Homo sapiens: one gene and its partner. The protein of the gene in region 1 interacts with the protein of each later gene in a biochemical or structural test. Each region holds a gene or a part of one and is shown on either strand. Other genes may lie near its edges.

What was found. The genes of interacting proteins can lie anywhere in the genome.
Region 2: of the proteins of MAPK14 (region 1) and PI4K2B, one has a biochemical effect on the other in vitro, tested with the Homo sapiens proteins (one study listed by BioGRID).

Annotation. Positions count from the first base shown.
Region 1 is NC_000006.12:36,107,414-36,111,985, reverse strand, and holds the end of MAPK14 (mitogen-activated protein kinase 14), read right to left. Parts: intron 4,532-4,572; coding exon 4,358-4,531; intron 3,607-4,357; coding exon 3,539-3,606; 3' UTR 750-3,538; downstream 1-749. UniProt on the Homo sapiens protein: Serine/threonine kinase which acts as an essential component of the MAP kinase signal transduction pathway.
Region 2 is NC_000004.12:25,250,712-25,254,532, reverse strand, and holds part of PI4K2B (phosphatidylinositol 4-kinase type 2-beta), read right to left. Parts: intron 2,213-3,821; coding exon 2,058-2,212; intron 1-2,057. UniProt on the Homo sapiens protein: Together with PI4K2A and the type III PI4Ks (PIK4CA and PIK4CB) it contributes to the overall PI4-kinase activity of the cell. This contribution may be especially significant in plasma membrane, endosomal and Golgi compartments.

The DNA.
Region 1 (4,572 bases):
ATCTGCCCGCCTCAGCCTCCCAAAGTGCTGAGATTACAGGCGTGAGCCACCACGCCCGGCCAACTGTCTGATTCTTAACAGGAGCTAAAGGACCCCATGTAACAACCGGGGCCCTTTTCTCTCACCTCCTTACGAAGTCACTGGGGATGGAAAGGAGACTATGCTTGGTCTGCCTTCGATCACTGCCTTCATTCCCAGCTGCCAGCCAGGGCCTGGACAAAAACCCAGCTCTCAATATCCTCACAGGCTGAGCCCCACAATCCACCCTGGGACACCTGCTGGGTGTCATTCCAAGGACACCAAGAAAGGAAGCACATCAGCAAAGTCCCTGAGAACTCAGCTGTGAGACCCCGTGGCTCTTTCATCCCGTGATGCAATTCAGTCATTCTGAAGAATATTTTCAAGGACCGTAGCCAGCTAAGACAAAACAGAGTCATAAAATACATTCGCCTAAAAGCTTACAAACAATGTACACCTATATATACAAACCAAACCTTCTCTCTGGCAGTTTTATAATAAAAATATATGGCTTATAGATAGTCTCAAATGTCAAAGATGAAAAAAACCTGAACTTCACTTTATAGATGAGAAAACTGTAGCCCTGGGCCAAGGGTCAGCAGACTTCTCTAAAGGGCCAGATGGTAAATGGTTGACATTTTGGAGGTCCTATAGTCTCTGCTGCAACTATTTGCCTCTGTCACTGTAGCACAAAAGCAGCCACAGACAATACATAAACAGATGAGTGCGGCTCTGTTCTCATAAAACTTTATTTATGGATACTGGAATTTAAGTTTTACATTACTTACATCACATGCTACAAAATCTACTACTTCTTTTTTTTTCTTTCCCAACCATTTAAAAATGTAAAAGCCATTCTTAGCAGGCTACACCAAACAGGTGGTGGGCCAGATTTGGCCCTCAGGCCACAGTCTGCTGAGCCCTGTCATTTCGGCCACTCTTACACTCGAGTGTAGATAAGACAGGCCCCAATGCTTAATACTTCGTTCATTTGCTCTTTGCTTTACCCATCCACAGCAAAGACCTGGATACTCTTCACCAAAAAATGTACAACTAAGAAGCTTTATCAACATTTTCTAAATGTTAGGAGTAGTATTAAGATCTGTCAGACAAGTATGCCAGGTCACAGTTTAAAGGATATTGATATAATGCCATATTGTGCATTAAATAAAAACAAGAGAAAAATATAATAAACTTGAGAAACTCACTAAATTTGAAAAATAGGCTTTATTTTAACCAGTGGTATTGTCTGACATCCTATACGGCATAACTGATTACAGCCAAGTTCATGAATACAAATAAAATAGCAATTTCCCTCATTCTCTCTTTTGTTTTCTGTTCAGAGAAATCAGGAGATGGGAGCATTATGCTCAGAAACCGAAGAGCTCTTCCAAGAGCTCCAGCTTAGAGTCCAGGCTTCCAGAGCATGCAGCCTCCTAACACGTATGTGGTCACATGTGCAAAGACCTTTATTACAAAATATTCAGAGCAGTATTTCTGTAGGAAATCACACGAGCATTTACAACCAAACATGGCTGATAAAATTCATCTTGCTGTGGATGGTGAGGATTTGAACTGCAATAAAGGAGATGAGGCCTTTACTTTAAAGGTTCACTTTCCTTGAAAGGGGGAGAGTCCCGGGTGAGAGGGAATCGCCATCAGTCTGCCTCCTTCCTTCTTGCTCCAGTTGACTCAGGGGGTCCACCCTGTCCCTCTGGAGTACATGTATCACTGCACTGATTGAGAAATGGAAACACCTTGGCCCAAATACAAGATTCTGTCACACAGCCAACACTGGAAGTGACTTTATACTTTCTTATTACACAAAAGGCTTAAATATATGAGTCCTCATGTAGAACAAAATGCCTGAAATTCAGCAAGTTATGAAAACGACACTTCTCCACCCCTGAGGATATTTTATCTTTATAAAGTTGAAAATACAAAATATTAAAATAATTTGCCCTTTCTCCCCATCAAAAGGAATCACATTCTCAAAGGATTCCTACAATATACAAAATTCTGAAACAAAATTTATTTCTCCCCAAACCAAGAAGTCAATGTTAAGCTGCCAAGAAGACCCTTTTCCATAGGAGTGGAAAAGACACCTTGTTACTTTTTTATTTTAAAGTAATCATATTTAGAGAAAGACAGCAAAAGGAGTTTCTGGCCTTATGGGCTTTAATTTTTTACTTTGATTTTCAGCATTTCTTAGCATTAGTTATTGGGAGTGAAGAGAATAACTTGTTTCCGAAGTTTGGGATATTCCTGGGAAAAGCCCTGGTCTTTTCCCATGATAATTCCTCAAAAATAGTTGGTTGAAAACAGATGGCATGAATAAAAATGCTATACATCCACCTGTTCCTCTTTTCATGATTTTCACATCAAAAGCACCTGAAGTATCAATTGTGTTCAACACAGAATAGCACTAGGGGCTGAAGAGAGGTGATATCACTTGCCATAATATCAGCTGAGGTGACATGGGATCTAAACTACCCAAGAAGTCTTCACTGGCAAACCTGCCTGACACCAGGGCCTCCTGAAGAGAGCAGGACAAGCAGCTGTGCATGCTCAAATAGCAAGACGTGCAAAACACATCCTCACTCTGCTAGAAATAAAGAGTACACAGGAAGTACATGACATCAAGAACCTGCTTCTGACTACTGGGGCAGATATTCAAGAAACCTCTGCACCAAAGGTGAAGGGTAAGCAGAGAAATGGCAACACCTGGGGGTGAGGGAGAAAGAGAGACGCACATATACGCATGTGCTCACATGCACACATGACCGCCTATGAAGGCTGCCTGATTACTCCGGGCCCACAAGCAGCTGTCCAACAGCCCTCTCGACTTGCCCGGCTCAGAACTTCAGCAGCTGCAGTCTTTTAACTATCTACACTTTCTTCTCTCCTTTTAAGGCACAAACATATTTACAGTTTCAAATATACTGTCAAGATCTGAGAACCATACTAAGCAAGTTAATCACAGGCTAGTGCACAGAAGCCAGTTGGTCCTTTTTGGCTGTACGTATCACTGAGGGACGGTGTCAGGTCTGAAGCAACCAGAAGGTATGGGCCTTCTCTCCGTGCCACTGTGGGATGTTGTCAAGTCTACGCCCCACCGTCAAGGTGGGGTCACAGGAGAAGCCAAAGTGGCAAAAGCATGACCGGGATTGGGGACAATTCATATTTTTTTACTTTGCATTGAACATATTCCTAAAAGGACAGCAGCTCTTGTCTGCCTGAGCCAACTCTCAGAAAGAAGAGCAAGGTGGAGGCTGCCCTGGAGCATCCACAACCTCCTGTAAAGTCACTGTGATCATAGTTTGTTCATATTGTCTTACCCTCCCACAAAGACAGACACACACATGCACACACACTAACACGCACGCACACGCACGCACACCCCCTTCCACCATGGAGGAAATCTCTGCAACAAGAGGCACTTGAATAATATTTGGAGAGTTCCCGTGAAAAGGCCTTCCCCTCACAGTGAAGTGGGATCAACAGAACAGAAACCAGGTGCTCAGGACTCCATCTCTTCTTGGTCAAGGGGTGGTGGCACAAAGCTGATGACTTCATCATAGGTCAGGCCTAGAAATTGGGAAGGAAAAGTAAGATGTGAGAGTTTAGGCTATTCTCTTTGCTGGCAAGCACTCTGACTTCTAAGCTCAAGATCCTTCCTCTCTGTCCAGGTAGTGGTTTGATGGGCTACCTCACAGCTTGTATGTAATAGCCTACTGGAACACGTTATCACACAGAAGTTCAAGGGACATAGAAAAGAACCATTTTTTTTCTCATGTTTTTCATCGCTGAGTGCCTCTTCTTTTAAGCTCTCTACGGAGGTGCTCAAGAATGAAAGAGCACTCTCACAAGCTACAGCAACAGATGGTCTTGGCTCTTGGGATTTAACTAGAGTTCTGAACTTGTGTTTTGTGGAAAGAATATGGGACTGGACACAGGATACATGGGTTCCATTCCTGGCTATGTCCCTAACTAGTTCTAAGTTAACTGATAAGACATAAATTCTCTTTGCCCCAGTTCTACTAATTGTAAAACTGTAAAAGCTCAGAGAGATGTTGTAAATGCAATGACTCTGAAAACCTCAACTCTCCATGCAAAACTCCTATGTGAGGGGCTGTGCATAAAATCAGACCAGACATAAGTATCTCAAAGGTCCAGAGAGTATCACTGTCTACAACAGTTTCCACCAGAGAACATATTCATTCTGCATTAGAGACCTCATCTACAAGCTTTAGCAAGTTGGTTATGACCATTCAGTTTTTATTTTTCCCACCGCTTTTGGTTAGTGGTTCAAGATGTTAATCCTACCCTTAGGACTTACTTTTCCACTCATCTATAAGGAGGTCCCTGCTTTCAAAGGACTGATCATAAGGATCGGCCACTGGTTCATCATCAGGATCGTGGTACTGAGCAAAGTAGGCATGTGCAAGGGCTTGGGCCGCTGTAATTCTCTTATCTGAGTCCAATACAAGCATCTTCTCCAGCAAGTCGACAGCTATCAGTACCATAGACAGGAAGGAAAAGAGTTTTTAACAT
Region 2 (3,821 bases), on another chromosome or scaffold:
CTGAGGCTGGAGAATGGCATGAACCCAGGAGGCAGAGCTTGCAGTGAGCGGAGATCGCACCACTGCACTCCAGCCTGGGTGACAGAGCGAGACTCTGTCTCAAAAAAAAAAAAAAGGAAAGACTTTCACTGATTTTTAAATGTTTCAAAACCACCATTCTAGGTCAAACAGTGTTATTATTCACTATCTATTAAATATCCACATTACATGTTTGCTGTTTACTTTCCCCACATTAATGTACATTCTAATAAGGCAAGGACTTGGTTTGTTAGGGCTGCATTTCCAGTAGTCAGAACAGTATCTGATGAACAGTGGACATCCAAGTATTTGTTAAATTAACTAATCCAATGACAAAAACTACCTCTAAAATACAAATATAATGATAAGATACAGTGTACATCCATGCTGTCAGATTCTCGTACCCTAATTCTTTTCCAGCTATTTTTTCAGGAACCAATTTAAAGTAAACTCTTGGCCAGGCGCTGTGGCTCACACCTGTAATCCCAGCACTTTGGGAGGTGAGCAGATCACTTGAGGTCAGGAGACCAGCCTGGTCAACATGGGGAAATCCCGTCTCTACTCAAAATACAACAATTAGCTCGGCGTGGTGGCGAGCGCCTGTAATCCCGGCTACTCAGGAGGCTGTGGCAGGATAATCGCTTGAACCCGGGAGGTGGAGGTTGCAGTGAGCCGAGACTGTGCTACTGCACTCCAGCCTGGGCGACAGAGTGAGAATCCATCTTAACAAATAAATTGATTAAATTCTCTCGTATTAAAAAATCTTTTTTTGCTCATGAATGTCTAAAAGTCTCTGTACTCTTATTGTTTGATACAATATACTCATATTCAATTTAGAAGCTGAATTATCCTTAGACAAGAACAAATCTTATTATAATTTTAAGTATATAATTGCTTTATAACACAATAAATATAATGCAATAAGGTCTGAGTCACTAGTAAAAAAGTCAACAAGATCAAATTAAGAAATCAAGCTTAGAATAAAGATTGAGAGATTGACAGTACCTTCAAATACATTTTAATCTTAAAAAAGGGACTATGCTTTAAAATCATTTTAAAAATAGAACTTCTATCTTTGCCAAAAAAATTGGGTGAAATTATAAACGTTATTCCCCTGGAGAAAAGAACTGCTCATTATGCATCATTCAGAAAGCTTTTAGAAAAAATAACATATTTTTGAAAAATTCTAGACTAAGTGGAGCAAAGTGCCACATCAACTTCTCTTTTCCACTTTAGAATCATCCTGTGGTTCATTTCACTTTCACATTCCAATACTTTCAAGCTTCAGATTGCTAAGCCTCCTTCCCCTGGTAAAATGCCAGAAAAGGTATTCACATACCTTTGAAAAAAAATCAAGTACTTTGGAAATGACATTAAACAACTTTTGAAGGTTTAACCTTCCACCGTGTTTGGCTATTAAGGTTATAGACTTCCATAAGATAAGGACTTGTGAATATATATACTCAAAAAGGCTACAGCTGAATGTGGGTATTCAATAAATGCTTGAAACCAAGTATAAAATAACAAAATAGCAAACTGTGACTTGAACTGATTAGCTCTGTTTCTAAGCACTAGAGTGCTTTAGTAAAAGCAAAACATTGAGGCTGGGCACAGTGGCTCACACCTGTAATCTCAACACTTTGGGAGCCAAAGCCGAGGTTTGCTTGAGCCCAGGAGTTCAAGACCAGCCAGGGCAATATAGGGAGACCACCGTCTCTACAAATAATTACAAAAATTAGCCCAGTGTGGTGGCACGCAACTATGGTCCCACCTACTTGGGAGGCTGAGATGGGAGGATTGCCTGAGCCCAGGTGGTCAAGGTTACAGTGAGCTATGATTGCACCACTGCACTCCAGCCTGGGTAAGAGAGGGCGACCCCGGGCGTCTCAAAAAACAAACAAAAACTGACCTTTGTTTTGGAAAAGAGGTTACAATCAGACTTAATAGGAAAATATCTTTAGAAACTCACAATGATTTCATATTTAAATTAGTATTTACCAAAGTTTCCATTACATATAATAGGTCTGTGAAATTCTCACCCTCTTAGGATCCTTCACAAAGTAACTTCCACTTGAACCTTGAGAGATTCTTTCTGGAAAAATTCCAACTTCTATTGCTTGCTCTGCTCTCAGCATAATATCGGCAAATTCTGGGTCATCCAAGAATGCATTCATCTCTGAAGTACCAATAGTTACTGCATTAAGAAGAAATACCAGCTATGAGAATGCTCATGATATGGACCTGTAATATCGATTAGCTTGCCGGTATCAGGATATAAGGTACAGAAAAATGTAATCAAGATTTGTATAGACTGCTCTAATCCTCCTTCCCCCCACTGCCTAACAACCCCCACTTCTCTTAAATTTCCAAATAATAACATGGGGGCGGGGGCGGGCACAGTGGCTCACGCCTGTAATCCCAGCACTTTAGGAGGCTGAGGCGAGTGGATCACCTGAGGTCAGGAGAGTTCAAGACCAGCCTGGCCAACATGGCAAAACCCCGTGTCTACTAAAAATACAAAAAATTAGCCAGATGTGGTGGTGGGCACCTGTAATTCCAGCTACTCGGAAGGCTGAGGCAGGAGAATCACTTGAATCTGGGAGGTGGAGGTTGCAGTGAGCAGAGATTGCGCCACTGCACTCCAGCCTGGGCAATAAGAGCGAGACACCGTCCAAATAATAATAATAACAACAACAACAACAACAACATGGGAGGAAGTTAACTGTTCATTAAAAATAATACTAATACCTCTCATTTCTTTGAACTTCGGTCCTGCAATGATTCTATCATCCATCCTACTTCATCCTCTAGTTCCCCAATCATATCTCGGATTTTGTCAATACCAGTAACTGCAACCTCACCACACTTTCAATTTCAAGCACCTCCTGTCTTCCCAGTTCAGTCCCTCTGGCACTCCGAGTCCAAATATTCTTCTGCCCTACTAGAACCTACAAAGGACTGCTCCCCCACGTCACTGGAATTCTCTCCCTTCATGTCCTTGCTTCCCTCCTCCTTGGCCAGCTTAAATTATGCTGGGTCTTCACAAAATCAACTCTTTCTTTCTCCCTTCATCATGGTCACCTGCAAAACTCCCAGTCCTGGTTAAACCCAACTGTCTACCAACTCCATGCCTGCACCAGGGCAGCGGAATTAAAGAAATGCACATGAGCCAATTTCTCTCCTCAAATTCCCAACACCTCCTCTTCCATCCTCTCTCTCAGGAGAGGATCTAGCTTCCTATTTCATTAAGAAATAAGCAGCAATCACAAAATACTACGACCAGCCCCCAGCACTGCATTTATTACCAACTACTTAACTTTGGAATGGCCCAGGTTCCATTCACAGTCCTCTTCTCTCCGTTACCAACACTGGTGACTCCCAAATTTCTAATTCAAGCCTGGACTTCTGCCCTAAACTCGACAACTGTATTCAACATCTCCACTTGGATGCGTAATAGACATCTCAAACTTCACTACCCAAAACTTCATTCTTCACCTTTACGCCTCCCAAAGGCTTCATCCCTACGTTTCCCATATTGCAGTTGCTGGCACCTCCAAATCTTCCAGTTGCTTAGGCCAAAAACCTTATAATCATCCATGATCTCACACGCTTACCCTCTACATCCAATCAGCAGGTTGTATTGGCTCTACCTTAAATAAATACCCAGAATCCAACCACCTCTTGCCATCTCCATTCCTTCCACATGATTCAGGTTACCATCGGCTCTCACCTCGATTATTCTAAGAGCCTCCTAACTGGTCTCCCTCTCTCACCCAGTCCCTCTCTATACCTAACAGAGAAGC